2 linked regions of the Homo sapiens genome follow. The protein of the gene in region 1 interacts with the protein of each later gene in a pairwise test. Each region holds a gene or a part of one and is shown on either strand. Other genes may lie near its edges.

Region 1 (8,282 bases):
CAGTTGGAGTTGACAATTCAGTTCAGTGACGGGGGGGACTTTTTTTTTTGAGGCAGGGTCTCTGTTGCCCAGGCTAGAGTGCAGTGGTGCAATGTCGGGTCATTACAACCTCAGCCTCCTGGGCTGAAGCAGTCTTCCTGCCTCAGCCTCCCAAGTAGCTGGGATTACAGATGCCCTCTACCACGCCTGGGTAATTTTTGTATTTTCAGTAGAGACAAGGTTTCTCCATGTTAGCCAGGCTGGTCTCATACTCCTGGTCTCAAGTGATCCACCTGCCTCGGCCTCCCAAAGTGCTGGAATTACAGGTGTGAGCCACCACACCCGGCTACCAGGGAGAATTTCTTACCACCTAGTTCAGTGGCAGATCATTAATGTGTCCAAATAAACATGTCGTGCCTTCCCCTGCTCTGCCAGCTCATTTTTTCTTTCTTTCTTTTCTTTTTTTTTTTTTTTTTTTTTGAGACAGTCTCACTTTGTCCCCAGGTGGGAGTGCAGTGGCATGATCTCGGCTTACTGCAACTCCACCTCCTGGTTTCAAGCAATTCTCCTTCCTCTCTCAGCCTCCCAAGTAGCTGGGACTACAGGTGCACGCTACTACACCCAGCTAATTTTTGTATTTTTGGTAGAGACAGGGTTTCACCATGTGAGCCAGGATGGTCTCAACCTCTTGACCTCCCAAAGTGCTGGGATTACAGGCATGAGCCACTGCACCCGGCCAGCCAGCTCATTTTATCTGCGGAAGTGGATGTGTAGATAGTACTACATCTCCAACATGGAGGTGGTCAGAACTGGTAGGTTTGGATTTCCACCTTAGTAGCCCTGAATGTTTGTCCCAGTTAGGATTTCGTGATAGAAGATACCTGCTTGCATTATGGTATTGCCAAATGTAATAGCCATCCTTAAGTTTCTGAGGGTGTTAATGAGATTTTTATGGAGCAAAGAGAGCTTTAAAGTATGATGCCCTCATAAACTCAGCTATTCTACAAATAATAGCTGTTAATGCATTACATTGTAATTACTCTATCAAAGTTTATTCCTCTGACTTGAAATTTTAATCTAGTTCAAATCCTTCAGCATATGTCCTATCCATTTATAATCTGCTATTTTTTAACTGGTGAAAGATGAACTAAAAACTACAGTGGAAGAAAGGAAGTCTTCAGAAGCCTCCCCCACTGCGCAAAGAAGTAAAGATCACAGTAAGGAATGCATAAACGCTGCCCCAGATTCTCCGTCCAAACAGCTTCCAGACCAGATTTCATTCTTCAGTGGAAATCCATCAGTTGAAATAGTTCATGGTATTATGCACCTATATAAGACAAAGTAAGAAAACCCTCTTTTCTTGGGGGTTAGTCAATTTTTTTTTTTTTTTTTTTGCTTTGCTTTAGCATAGTCTCTTGTCCTGAAGGAAAGTGGGTATTTTAAGCTTCAAAATAATAATACTTTTGTCTGTTGTATGTTAGAGAATTCTCAGATGTTTTACATTTGATTAATCTTGTGGATTGGGTCAAAGCTTTTCCTTATAAAAGAAATGCTTGTGGATACACTTAAGAGAATATGTGGGAAAAATGTTTTCTTTTTTTTTTTTTGAAATGGAGTTTCGGTCTCGTTGCCCAGGCTGGAGTGCAATGGCGCGATCTCAGATCACTGCATCTTCTGCCTCCTGAGTTCAAGTGATTCTCCTTCCTCAGCCTCCCAAGTAGCTGGGATTACAGGTGCCCACCACCACACCTAGCTAATTTTTTGTATTTTTAGTAGAGATGGGGTTTCACCCTGTTGGCCAGGCTGGTCTTGAACTCCGACCTCAGGTTATCCGCCCGCCTCAGCCTCCCAAAGTGCTGGGATTACAGGCGTGAGCCACTGCGCCCTGCCAGGAAAATGTTTTCTTAGCAGATAGGCATGGAAGGTGATGGGGAATTGAAAGGACAAAGAAAATGATCCACAGCATCTTTGTAGTCTCATGTCCCCACCAAATCTTTACTGAAGAGGCTGCTAAGAAGTCAGTTAACTCATTACAATTTTATTACCTCTTTTTTACCATTTTCTGTGGTTCAAACAAAGCTTGCTAGAGCCCCAAGGAAAGGAAGCATTTGGCTAGATAATCCACAAGCCCAGCCACTACCTTCTTGGGTAATGGTAGCTGATACCTTAAGGCTGTTCTTGTGCTAACTCATTTGCCAGATCTCTACTGGGAAAACAGTGACTATTCAGGTAGCCATTTTGTTTTTTGTTTTGTTTTTTGTTTTGTTTTTTGTTTTGTTTTTTTTTGAGACAGGGTCTCACTCCATAACTCAGGCTGGAGTGCAGTGGTGCAATCCTGGCTCACTGCAACCTCCCCTCCCGGGTTCAAGCAATTCTCCTGCCTCAGAGTAGCTGGGACCACAGGTGCACACCACCACGCCCAGTTAATTTTTTTTTTTTTTTTGGCAGAGATGGGGTTTCATCATGTTGGCTAGGCTGGTCTCGAACTCCTAACCTCAAGTGATCAGCCCACCTCAGCCTCCCAAAGTGTTGGGATTACAGGTGTGAGTCACTGCACCCGGCACAGGTAGCCATTCTGGATCACAGCTGTCAAGTGAGTTTGCAGCATTTCAAAAAACAAATTGCATTGTGGGAGGATTTTCTTTCCTCTCTATTCCAGCCATCTCAACTTGGTAACACTTCCTGTAATCCTCAGTTACATCCTCATGGTTTAGAATTCTCTCTTGCCGGGCGTGGTGGCTCACGCCTGTAATCCCAGTACTTTGGGAGGCCGAGGCGGGGGATCACGAGGTCAGGAGTTCGAAACCAGCCTGGCCAACATAGTGAAACCCCATCTCTACTAAAAATACAAAAATTAGCCCGGCGTGGTGGCACGCGTCTGTAATCCCAGCTACTTGGGAGGCTGAGCAGGAGAATTGCTTGAACCCAGGAGTCAGAGGTTGCAGTGAGCCGAGACCATGCAGCAAGACTCTGAAAAAAAAAAAGACAGAATTCTCTCGTATATTTAGAGCTGTTTTTTTAGGCCTTTTAAGAGAGGTCCATAGCCAGAGTTGTGCTTTTAAGTTAACCAGTGACAGATTTTTTTTTTTTTTTTTTTTTTTGAGATGGAGTCTTGCTCTGTGGCCCAGGCTGGAGTGCAATGGCGCGATATTGGCTCACTGCAAGCTCTGCCTCCCAGGTTCACACCATTCTCCTGCCTCAGCCTCCCAAGTAGCTGGGACTACAAGCACCTGCCACCATGCCCGGCTAATTTTTTTTGTATTTTTAGTAGAGATGGGGTTTCACCGTGTTAGCCAGGATGGTCTCGATCTCCTGACCTCGTGATCCACCCGCCTCGGCCTGCCAAAGTGCTGGGATTACGAGCATGAGCTACTGTGCCTGGCCACCAGTGACAGATTATTATTCAAACATTGATGAGAGTAAAACACTGCAAATTTACCGAATGCAGATTTATAACCGTAATAAATGTTGAACTGAAGATTAAAAAGTCCAATGGGGGGTATAATATAGAACAGTTCATTAATGAAATATTACAATTTTTATTTTTTCCTGTTTTCTTGGACATAAAAGTTGTCTAGTATTGTTTAAACTAACCATACCTCATCTATTCAAGACACTCTAATTTTTTTTTTGTTAGTAAGATGACCTCCTTAAAAGAAGATGTGCGGCGCAGTGCCATGCTGTGTATTCTCACAGTCCCTGCTGCAATGACCAGTCATGACCTTATGAAGTTTGTTGCCCCATTTAACGAAGTAATTGAACAAATGAAAATTATCAGAGACTCTACTCCCAACCAATATATGGTGCTGATAAAGTTTCGTGCACAGGTAAAAGTTATTAAATTTATTAAAAATCTCTTTGCCACAGAAACTGTGGTATTCAAACTGTATGATAGCTGTGTGTGATTTACAACATTTTGCACTTAAGATTCTTGAGATGTCTTCTAAGATATAATTGTAATTCTAGATGTATTTCTAAATTCATTAGCAGAAATACAATTATAACGTATACACTTTTTTTTTTTTCGGTAGAGATGAGATCTTGCTGTGTTTTCCAGGCTACTCTTGGCCTCAAGCAATCCTCCTGCCTTGGCCTCCCAAAGTGCTAGGATTACAGATGCTCTGAGCCACTGCACCTGGCCTCATGCCCATGATTTTTTATAGATCAGATTGAGTATGAAGTTTAGGGTTTTGCAAGGAGGCAGAGGTTGCAGAAAGCTGACATCACACCACTGCACTCCAGCCTGGGTGGCAAGAGTGAGACTCCGTCTCAAAAAAAAAAAAAAAAAAAATCTAGTGTGTTTTTTTGTTTGTTTCTTTTTGAGACGAATTCTCGCTCTGTCGCCCAGGCTGGAGTGCAGTGGTGTGGTATCGGCTCACTGCAACCTCCGCCTCCCGGGTTCAAGCGATTTTCCTGCCTCAACCTCCTGAGTAGCTGGGACTACAGGCATGCACCACCATGCCTGGCTAATTTTTGTATTTTTAGTGCAGACAGAGTTTCACTATGTTGGCCAGGCTGGTCTCGAACTCCTGACCTTGTGATCCACCCGCCTCAGTCTCCCAAAGTGCTAGGATTACAGGCGTGAGCCATCATGCCCGGCCTGTTTGTTTTTTTAAACAAGCGGTAACTATTCCAGAAAAGCGGTGGTTCCCAGACTTTTTGAAGTTAACACCATCTTATTATTTTTCCATTACCCCCACTTCTTTCATTTTTTTTTTTTTTTTTTTTGAGACGGAGTTTCACTCTTGTTGCCCAGGCTGGAGTGCAATGGCACGATCTCAGCTCACAGCAACCTCCACCTCCTGGGTTCAAGCCATTCTGCCTCAGCCTCCGGAGTAGCTGGGATTATAGGCATGCACCACCATGCCTGGCTAATTTTGTATTTTCAGTAGAGGCGGAGTTTCTCCATGTTGGTCAGGCTGGTCTCAAACTCTGGACCTCAGGTGATCTGCCCGCCCCAGCCTCCCAAAGTGCTGGGATTACAGGCGTGAGCGACTGCACCCGGCCTCATTCTCTTTTTAGTGGGGGAAGAGTGTACCTGTTCTGTGATCTCCAGAGAGAAGCTTTAGTGTGGAGTTCTGTCTGCAAGAGAGTACACAGTTATTATGTTTTCTGTTTACAAAGTACCCCATCATTTAGGGAGACATTTAAAAGGTTTCAATTATCCTTTGGATTTAAAGTTTACAAGTTGACATTAAGAACAGAAAAGCACTTGAATAGCTCCTTTCACTGTCCATCAGAAAGCCTTCCAAGGGTGCCAAGGAGCTTTGCAAACCATGGGAAAATCGTGCCTTAAGCCATTTCAGTCTGGTAGCACATGTAATAATAAGGATAATGATGATAATATCCAACGTTTATCGATGGCTTCTGTATCACTCACTGTGCTAAGTGTTCAATACACTTTGTCTCATTTAATCCTCACTACAATCCCTTGCGGAAACTGTGTTGTTATCTTTGTTTTACAGATGAGGAGGGTGACTGCAGAGGGAGATACATGGTTTGCCCAAGGTTACATAGCTAGACATAAATGACAAGCAAGAGTGTGGCACCCTCACTTTTAATTCCAGGGACGCGTTCCTCTTCTAGTAGGAGTGGGATGAAGGTGTGGGGAAGGGAGGCGGTTGTTTGTGAGACATTCTATGACAGCAGTATTGTTACAGTTTCTACTTAACAACTAGGGCAATAAGCAAGTAACAAAGGAAAAGACCCAGAAATAGATTGGGAAAAAAATGTTGAAGAGCACTCAGGCTTTTGAAATAGTCTGAAGTCGTATAAATCCACCACAGTCACCTGTTTAATAAACCCACACAGTTCCCTATAACAAGTACTGCCCTTCATAATGTGCAGGTAGTACTGTGGATATTTACTGTGAATGAATTTTCCTTGTACATCTGCACTATCCTTCCCCTTGTGTCTTTTGATCAAGTGAAGGTTGCTCAAGTTGACATGTTTTTCTGAGACTGCGAAACAGGTTGCTGCATGCTCTTCCCCATGGGGCTAGAACCCTTTATCTTGGTATCATGAGTTGTATTATTTATTGCTAACTCTGGGTCTTAGGGGCTAATCCCTATCATCCTAACAGGGATTTTCTAATACCTAATAATACCCTCTTGGTGTAAGACTGGAAGTTAAACTAATATCGGCTGTAGTGAGAATAATAGGCTCAGTAGCTACCAACTCTGAAGCACTTACTAGAGACCGGACCCTGTGCCAAGTGCTTTCCATGCATTGTCTCCTTGAATCCTCTCAACGATGCCATGTTGGCCAGGTGCAGTGCCTCATGCCTTTAATCCCAGCACTTTGGGAGAGACCAAGGTGGGCGGAACACTTGAGGGCAGTGGTTTGAGACCAGCCTGGCCAACATGGTAAAAGCTTATGTCTACTAAAAATATAAAACTTAGCTGGATGTGGTGGCGCACGCCTGTAATCTCAGCCACTTGAAAGGCTGAGGCAGGAGAAACTATTGAACCTGGGATGTGGAGGTTGCAGTGAGTCAAGATCACACCACTGTACTCCAGCCTGGGCAACAGAGCGAGACTCTGTCTCAAAAAAAAAAATGCCATGTATTTTACAGTTGAGGAAACAGGCACAGATAAGTCACTTGCCTGCAGCCAAACAGCTAGTAGGTGTCAGAGTTAGGGTTCAAACCTAGGCAGCCTGACTCCATAGCCTGGGCACCTAACTATGTTTTTATTCTTTTCCTCACCACAGATTTTTAAATAAGGACTTATAAGCCTTCTCTTTATCTTTGGTAATTTTTGAATTTCTGTTGGCCTTAGCTTTAGCTGAAAGAGTTGTGAGGCCAGGTGTGGTGGCTCATGTCTGTAATCCCAACACCTTGGGAGGCCAAGACAGGAGTATTGCTTAAGGCCAGGGGTTCAAGACCAGCCTGGGCAACATGGCAAGATCCTGTTTCTTAAAAATTTTTTTTAAAAGATCAAAAAAAAAGGGGGGGTGTGCTTACCAATTTGTAGTGTGACCCTTAGGAAACTTGGTCTTTGGGTAGAGAATTTACAGTTCTTCAGGACATAGGAAAAGCAGAAGGAAGTTCAATTTTGTTGTTCTTGGGGGCAGAAAAGGACAGATGACCACTTAATAGAGTATGTTGGCTTTTTTCACCTGCGTGCTTAGTTACCACAGCCTTAGCAGACACCTCCTTGGAGAAGTAGAGGTATGTTCTCAACACTGTAGTTGATTCCTGTGACAGCGAAGGAACTTGATCATAATGGATTTGTCTTTTTCTGAGTTAATCCTCAGAAGAGAACAATAAAACCAAAGGACTAGAGGGAAACAAAAGCCAGGTTTATTTAAAGTTTTGGGTCCACACAATGCAAACATTTTCAATAAAAGCTGTTTCTGCAATGTTCTTGGCAGTTAGCTTCAGGCTTTTGTTTAGTGCATTTAGATGGTGAGTTGAAGTAGGAACCATGTGTAGTTTGTTCCCTACTCTCTACCTAGTACATAGCACAGGGCCTGGCACATACTAGATGCTCAGAAAATATGTGAACAGGTGAAGGTGCATTTCTAATACCAAGATTTTAAAGAAGAGATCAATATGTTAATTGGGAAATCTCAGCTGTTTAGTGATGTTGTCATTACAAAAAAGTACTTTTTCTTTTTACTTTTTTCATTTCTGCCACAATCATCCTAGTGTAGGCCACCATGACAACTCACCTACATGCTTCTTCTCCTTTTTTATTTTATTTTATTTTTTTTGGAGACAAGGTCTCACTCTGCTGCACAGGCTGGACTGCAGTGGCACGATCTCGGCTCACTGCAGCTTTCACCTCCTGGGCTCAAGCTATCCTCCCACCTCAGCCTCCCAAATAGCTGGGACTACAGGCTTCCACCCCCATGCCCGGCTAATTTTTGTATTTTTTGTACAGATGGGGTTTCGCCACGTTGCCCAGGCTGGTCTCAAACTCCTGGGCTCAGGTAGCAGAAAGGAATAATTCATTGAATGGTTTTGGTCACATGCCTTATCCTTTCCTGTAGAGGAGGCTGGTCGTTTAGTGAGCATTTGCAGAGCTCTAGACCCCAAGAGGGCTCTACCAGCCACTGGTGGTGCCTGAGGCTCTGAAGAGGTGAGAGAAGGCCCTGACTTTCAGGCAGTCCGTTTTCTCCTGGTGAATCCATGTGCTGACTTTGCTGCTTACTTAGCCAAAAGCATTTCAAGAAACCGTTGCTCCTGAAGAATGGGGGAAGCCATATTAGGTTGTAACCTCTTAGTATTAAAGAGGCTTCTTCTCCAACAGCTGGCTTTAAACATTTTCAAATTGTAATGCACTATGCTCAATACACGG
Region 2 (7,640 bases), on another chromosome or scaffold:
CTGGTGCGCCCGCCCGGGCCCGCTGGGTCCCGCCGAGGTCCGCGCGGCCCGGCCCCGCCCTCTGGTCCCCGGCGGCGCAGCATCCTCTTCCTCCTGGCTGCCGGGCCGCGGCGCCCCGTGGCCCCGGTTCCCGCACCAGCTTCCCGACTCGCCGCCGGCCCGGGGAAAAGGGGTGGGCAGGGCCCGGCGCCCCACGCCTCCCGGCCCCCGGCCGCTGTGCATTTTTGAACTCGATGAACGGAGCCCTCACCGCACACACAAAGCCCTTTCTTTCTTCTCCTGGGAAGGGACGGGGTGGGGGAGGGCCTCGCAGATTGGAACGCTTGCTTTTTTCCTAAAGCGCAGAAGTTTTAGTTCGGGAACGAGGTGAATCATTGGCATGTGTCTCCACACAGTGTGTCTGGTGGTTTCCGTCACATGGGCCCCTCATTTTTCTGGGGGAAACCTAGACCCAGGGCCTGAAAGATCCAAGTGTCGACAGTGAAAAAAGAAACGCCACGGGCGTGCGCGGGTGTCAGGGTAACGGTGGACCAGGCTCGCGCCGGCGAGACTTGCCCGAGACCCCGGCTTTCTTGAAAGTAACGCTGAGCGAAGTACCAGGACAAACCTCTTCCTAGTCACTTGGAAAGAAGAACTTTCCGAGTTGAAGTAGGATAGCGGTTAGTGCCTGTCCGGTGGAAAGGGCTCCAAGAAGCTTCTGAAACCCCGTGAAGGAATTTGGGAGGGATTTTTCTTTTCAAAAAAAAAAAAGTTTATTAAAGTTTGCACGATTGGCAGTTTTGTTCACTCGCAGCTTCTGAGCATTTGGTTCACCTGCTTTTGGAGTGAATTTACAGCGAAAGTTTGGTTGACTGTGAATGCGTTTGTTCCCAGTGCTTCCTGAAGATGATTTCTTCTCATGCACGTAGGATTTTATGGGCAGTAAAGGGAATCCGTCAGTTGACGGTATTCGCTGGGCAGGTTTGATAAGTCGAACTGCAAAATACCTGTGCAGTTCTTAGGTTAATAAGCAAAAAATGGCAAGTGAAGAATGAGTAAAGAGGACATTTTATTCTTTTATCGTCATGTTGCAAAATTATCCAAATATCTTCCCCACAAAGACAGCATCTGTTTCAACTGCTAAATTCTAAATAAAATATTTACACTAAAAACAAAGATTTAGCTTCCATATTCTGTGTGGGCGCGGAACACAGTGCTGTTCTCTCCTATCAGCTGCTTGGACAACTCCCAAAAGAGCGAATGGCCTCAGGTGGGCTGGCTGGGCTTTTGGGGATGAGAAGCTGAAGACAGGAATAAAAATAGTACAGTCCTCACTGAAGAGCGGATTGTTTTTCTTCAGGGTATGCCTTGAAAAATTCATATGTAGATGAGCTATACCAAACGAATCATTTTGATATTAGTAGCGGTTTTGAAGAAGAGGAAGGGCATTCTGGGTGGCTCTTGTTAAATACCTAGCCTTCTCTTCAGTATTTTGATTTCCCTATGTCTTCTTGGAAGGGTCTCCAATTTTTCAAAATGTGTTGTAGGAGTGTTCTGAGTATGCGGATTGTCCATTATATCATTCAGAAGGTCACACTTGGATCATAGAAAAGCCAGAGAGGTGTTATTATGACCTGTGTTCTGGTATCATATTAGTAGTAATATGCAGTGAACAACACTTTGCTATCAGCAGGTATAGAAAGGCAGTCCTGTTGTGTTTCTTCATTTATGAATAACTGATTAATAGGTTTGCAATTAAAAGATAAAAAGTCTGATTTTATTAGATGAGTGACAGTATTTCAAAACCATGTAGATTATAGCCAACTTGAAGGAGGCATTGGAAACCATGAAAATGCAATAGGCCCTTCTAAATAAAACATGAAGTTCTGCACTGAATTTCCAACTTCTGTCTTACATGCATACTAGTACTTTAACCAACAAGATGTAAAAGATATTGCTGACATGACTGTCAATTTGATATAATTTGAAACTTGTATCTCAGGAAAGTCATTTACCTAAGGCAGATAAAAACATGAAGACACAATGTCAGTTAGGTTTGGAGTCTGTATTTTCAACCAAATGCTTAAAAATACAGATTACCAGGACATTTCTATTAACAGTTGAATTTATTGTGTGAATTCTCATAATTTAGTACCCTGAAGGAATAATTATGTTTACTTGAAAAAGTATGCTGGGTTTTTTGTTTGTAGGAAACTTCAGTGTAATTGTCCTAAGAATCCATCTCCTGAGAGTAGGTACCATATTTCTAGCTTCAGTGGAGCAGGTCCTGGTTGGTCTACTTACCTCCTCTAAAGTACATTAAACCTGTTAAACACCGAAAAGATTCACTTTTCTATTTGTAAAAGCTGGAAATATATTTTGAAACATGGAACTCCTTTACCCCTCCTGCCTTTCAAAGCCCTAGCATCAAAATTCTATCAGCCCACATACAAAGTTGACAAACTTATTCTGTCCTTATGGTACGAATCTTCTGGATAACCCCTTCTATTTAATGAAATAGAGAATTGAAGCCAGTTATTAGAGGCATGGATGGACAGACAATTAAATGAGTCACTCTTTCTGCCCCATTTATATTATTTGGATATTTGTCTCAATTCCTGAGAGTAGACATGGTACTTGAGTAGATTACCTGACTCAAAATAGTTCTCCTGTCAGCTTATTTTTAGAGGCAGCAAATCAGTTGCATCAAATTGGTCAATTGTGACCTATTTCTATTTTTCTTGCTGGCTATTTATTCTCTTTCTTGTGGTGCCTCTCTGATGGAAGTTTCTCGGCCATTTTACCTAATAACAAACAATTTTTTTTTGAAATTTACTCCAAAAAGCACTGTAAAAAGGAAAAAGTGGTCCACTATATAAAGGTGTGATATATTCAGTAAGAGCCAAGTTATAAAGCTGGGAAGGAGAGAGGGGAGCACTTAGTCATTTAGATGGCCAAGTTAAACACAAGACACAATTAGGATATCTGAACCCTCAGGTGTTCATAAACCCATACCAGGGACCTCTGGAGAGGAGTGGTGGGAACCAGGGAGAAAGAGAGCCCCAGAAGTGCCTTGTTTAACTTGGCCGTCACAGTAGCTAACCCTTTGTAACTTGGCACATTTTGAAGTTATCACACTTGTGATTGACCTTTCCCCCATTTACCTTCTTTTGTACTTAGGAAGGTTTATTTTATTTTATTTTTGAGTAGAGTAATTTATTTAGAAATGTAATAGAGTGGCAAAACTTAGTCTGCAATTTAAAGAAGAAATGTAAACTATAGAATTTGAATGTAAAGGCAATGGATTTTAAGCCTGAAACCTTTTGAAAGTAAGAAAACCTGTGTATTAGGCTGTATTCTCTAGTGGAAAAGCTCTAAAAATTGTAGGTGTTAGAAAAGCCACCTCAGGGAGCTTGTACTGGCCCTGAAATTTAATAGAAACATTAAACTCTGCAGTCCTTATTTAAACACATTTTTTTCTCTTATGTTCAAAGTCAAAATATATATACTTACGGGTAGACAGGTGAAGTATAACCAAAAAAAAAGTGTTTCTCTTATATTTCATATGTTTCATTTCTTAGACAAAAAAAAACCTCATCAGTAAAGATTGAGTTTTGATTTTGGAAATGATGACATAATTAGAAAAAAAAAGCCCCCAAGTTTGTGTGTAAAGGTAATTGTTTTAAGACAGTGCAGTGCTTTGCTTTTAAGAATTGCAATATGGCTTTCCCTCAAAATTATTTTTAGATAGGTTGTGACTCCCTTTTTTCATGATTAGATTTTAACCTAAGGTAAGTTTTTTAAAAAATAAGAAAAGATACATACACACACAAATTAGAGAGAGAGATTTTTTTTCATGATTGTACAGGCAAAAATACTAATTGGCATACAGAAATGTATGCTTTACTTTTGGACTTGTATGCTAAAAAGCCTGATTATTGGAAACACTGCAGAAGCTCAAACAGTGTTTGACATCCATACTCCTTCAGACACTTGCAAATGTTCTTCTATTTATCTATCAACCAGTGACTGTTTCTTCCCTCCACCACCTTTAAATTATACTGACTAGATGTTGAAGTCATTAAATTCATTATAGTCCAATCAGTAGACAATCCGACATAAACAAAAACAGCAATTACAGTTGGCAAGGATCCCATGAGTGCTAGTCAAAGTTCCAGAACTGATGGTCCAGTGAGTCTCTTCCAAAACGCCGGTTTCACGATTTCAGCACTTCTGGCAGCATCTTCCTAAAGTGAGGGCACACAAATTCATAAGATTCCACTTGGCCTTAAAAACAAAAACATCTGTTTTATGCATGAGTGGATTGTTGTCTTTTATTCATCCAGCCAAAAAAGGACAAAAAATAGGATACTGAACATAAAAGCATACATGTAAAAATGAAATTACAAAGGGATTTGAGATTAGCAAGCAGCCTTTTATAAAGCAAGCTGTTAATAATTTTTCTTTTTTGTTTTGCCAGAGTATTTCCATATCCTTTAAAAACCACTGTAGTTATCCTTACTGACAGCAGTGACGTCTAACAGTGATGACAGAATTTTTCAACTTTTTGCTTCCGGTAATTATACTTAGTTCTTTGTACTTGCTTATTTGGTCTAGTGCAAGACTCGTAGCATATTTGTAGGAGATTTCTTTTCACCTTAGAGGAACATTTGTACCTGCCTCCCTCTATTTTTAAAGGAGTCTGTTTGTGAGGGCTCGTTAGTCTGGTAAATTCTAGTTAAATACTTGTTGACATAAGTTGAAGCATATTATTAAGTATACTTGCTTGAGTTTTCATTTTGATGTAAAAGCATGTAATAAGAAGAAAGAGGTTTTGATAGTAGAAAAGAGTAGGTCTACTAAGATCAATTAAGAATTTTATTAAGGGTCTCTTTTTCCTATTAATGTGTTTTATTAATTCATCTGTCAGGATTCACATTGCTGGTTTACTGTCATTAATTCTGTTGCCACAGAATACATTCCTCATGGCTGGATTTAATGGATACTATGTTCAGTTTTTCAGTTAATTTTAAGAGGGAAAGTGATTTTAAGACTTGCAGTATTTGTTTATTTTAGCAGCTGTCTGCATCATTAAAAATGTAAATATTATCATTAAGTAAGATGTGAAAGAATGCTTTTGAATTGAATGAGATTTTGATACAAAGGCTGATATTCCACGTCAAACCTGTAGCTAAGTATTTTCCCAGATGTATTTAATTTTTTTCTTCATTGACTCCTGTTGTGCTGTCAAAGGTTAAAGTTAGTTCTAGGGGTGGGGGAGATGCATGCAACTTTCTAATTCCATTTCAATTAAATCTGAAATGTTCCTGTTTTTTGTTTGGGGACTACATGGTGCTAGGATTGCATATACCTTGTTTGTTGTAGTGAAAGCGTACTTGTCTGATTTAAAATATGTTCTGCAACAGTGTTATTACAAAGCAATTAAAACTTAAACATTAAAGTTAACATTAGTAAATTTAAATAGCTCTGTTATAGTATTAATCAAATAGTGTAAGGAAAGCTTTTAAATGGTTTAAATAATTATGCAACTCCTGGCATAAAAAGCCCGACACAAGATAAATCTCTGAAAACTAAGTAGAATCGCAGCTTTTTTTTTTTTTTTAATAAAAAACTTTAATTTTAGGCACCTTGGGCTTTTAGCATGCATCACATTCCACCTCTAGTATAAGTAATTATGCCAGTTTAGTAATTATTAGAGATGAAAGAAATTCAGTAAGATATGAATTCTTTAAAACTTCAGTAGCTTCAGTTTTAGCAGGGATAATGATCAAGCAGCAGTTATCCTGCTGCCTGGGGACCCTGCCACAGCTACAAGCACTGGGCTGATCTTGTGGGTATCATTATTATGGCAGCACATACTATAGTTAGTATTTCTACTCTAGTTGTCAGATTGCAGAGGTTTATAATTTGGTCATTAAACAAATTTAGATTCCAATATGACTGTGTAAAAACTCCCCTTTCTTAGAACACTTTTTAAAAAAAGATTAAGTTTAAAAATTATTATTTTGGGGCAGCATCTCTTTTAATTCTATGGGATAGTAAATGCTTTGAAAAATCCTGAAAAGAAAAAAAATGTGTATGCCTGTCATTTTTATGTGTGTATGTGTTAGGTACGTGTTCATTTTGAATCTTATTTTTAAATAAAGATGATTTGGTTTGGAAAGCATATATACTATTCCCGCATGATCATAGCTCTCCCAATCTGAGCAAGGTCAAGTGATTGACATTCAGAATATTTGTTTTCATAATAGTGCAGTTTGTTGGATTTATATTTCAATATTTTGGTTATGATAATTTTTTTGTATATGTGAAACCCAAGAGTTTACGTCCCTCAGTTATCACAACATATTGTGACACACACATACATAGTCTATATACACGGAAACATACTCTAAACCTTCTGTAGGAAATGCACTTTGTTTAGTAAGTCCATATAAGTGTTAATAATGTTTTAAGGGAAAAATTGGATTTTTTTCCAATTAAAATTGGTGTCAAAGAATAAGATTTCCTTTTTGAAATTAAAATCAGCGTATCATTGAGTCTCATTATTTCACTGACTTTATTACCTTCTCTTTCCATCTTATGATTGGCTTTTTCTCAAAATTTATTATCCCATCAGTATACTGTGAAGGATATGATATGTCAAGATGGAAACTTATTTACCTGATAGGGACAAAATCCTCATTGATTACAGACAGTTCCATATATTCATACAAAATACATTTGTTGAAACCTGTAGTGAGGTGAACAGTCCACACAGTAAACTATAACTTGCCATATTATAGGAGTTTCTGTGACCTGGAATCTAAAAAATATCACTGTGCTTTAAACTTTATATTGACTTCAAGAAACAATTTCCAGCATTTCATACGTGTTCTTAGCTAATATTCTTATCTTTCACAATAGAGCCAGATTAGGTCCAGTTAGTGCTTGAATAAGACTACATATTAATTGCTTTCAGCATTCCTAATGATTTAGGTTGTCTTAGTTGTGTTAAGTTTATCAGACATATGCTTTTTATTACCACTATCAGCACCTTTTGTCTTTCATTGATTACTTTTATACATTAAGAAAAAGAAGGCCAGGCGCGGTGGCTCACGCCTGTAATCCCAGCACTTTGGGAGGCCGAGGCGGGCGGATCACGAGGTCAGGAGATCGAGACCATCCTGGCTAACACGGTGAAACCCCGTCTCTACTAAAAATACAAAAAATTAGCCGGGCGTGGTGACGGGCGCCTGTAGTCCCAGCTACTTGGGAGGCTGAGGCAGGAGAATGGCGGGAACCTGGGAGGCGGAGCTTTCAGTGAGCCAAGATGGCTCCACTGCACTCCGGGCTCCAGCCTGGGCGACAGAGCGAGACTCTGTCTCAAAAAAAACAAACAAACAAACAAAAAAAAAACAAAGGAAAGAAAAGGAAAAAGGCTGTAAAGTCTTCACAAACATTGATCTACCAAGTACTAATGAAGCCAAAACAGAATCATTGCTTGAATGCTGATGTATGGAGTCTGAAGTTCCTATACATAGGGGGGTTTGGGGTTGTCAGTGTGCAACTTGCAAAGTTGTATGATGTTTTGCAGACATGAGGCAAGGGTTAAGAAGAACTGTGGGCTCAAGGGAGTGCATATTAATTCCTGGAAAGAG

The links. Proteins that work in one complex are often made in the same cells at the same time.
Region 2: the proteins of BRAP (region 1) and ZNF521 interact in a two-hybrid assay, tested with the Homo sapiens proteins (one study listed by BioGRID and IntAct).

What each region holds. Positions count from the first base shown.
Region 1 is NC_000012.12:111,674,675-111,682,956, reverse strand, and holds part of BRAP (BRCA1-associated protein), read left to right. Parts: intron 1-1,121; coding exon 1,122-1,320; intron 1,321-3,616; coding exon 3,617-3,806; intron 3,807-8,282. UniProt on the Homo sapiens protein: Negatively regulates MAP kinase activation by limiting the formation of Raf/MEK complexes probably by inactivation of the KSR1 scaffold protein.
Region 2 is NC_000018.10:25,342,167-25,349,806, reverse strand, and holds part of ZNF521 (zinc finger protein 521), read left to right. Parts: intron 1-4,459; exon of another isoform or gene 4,460-4,555; intron 4,556-7,640. UniProt on the Homo sapiens protein: Transcription factor that can both act as an activator or a repressor depending on the context. Involved in BMP signaling and in the regulation of the immature compartment of the hematopoietic system.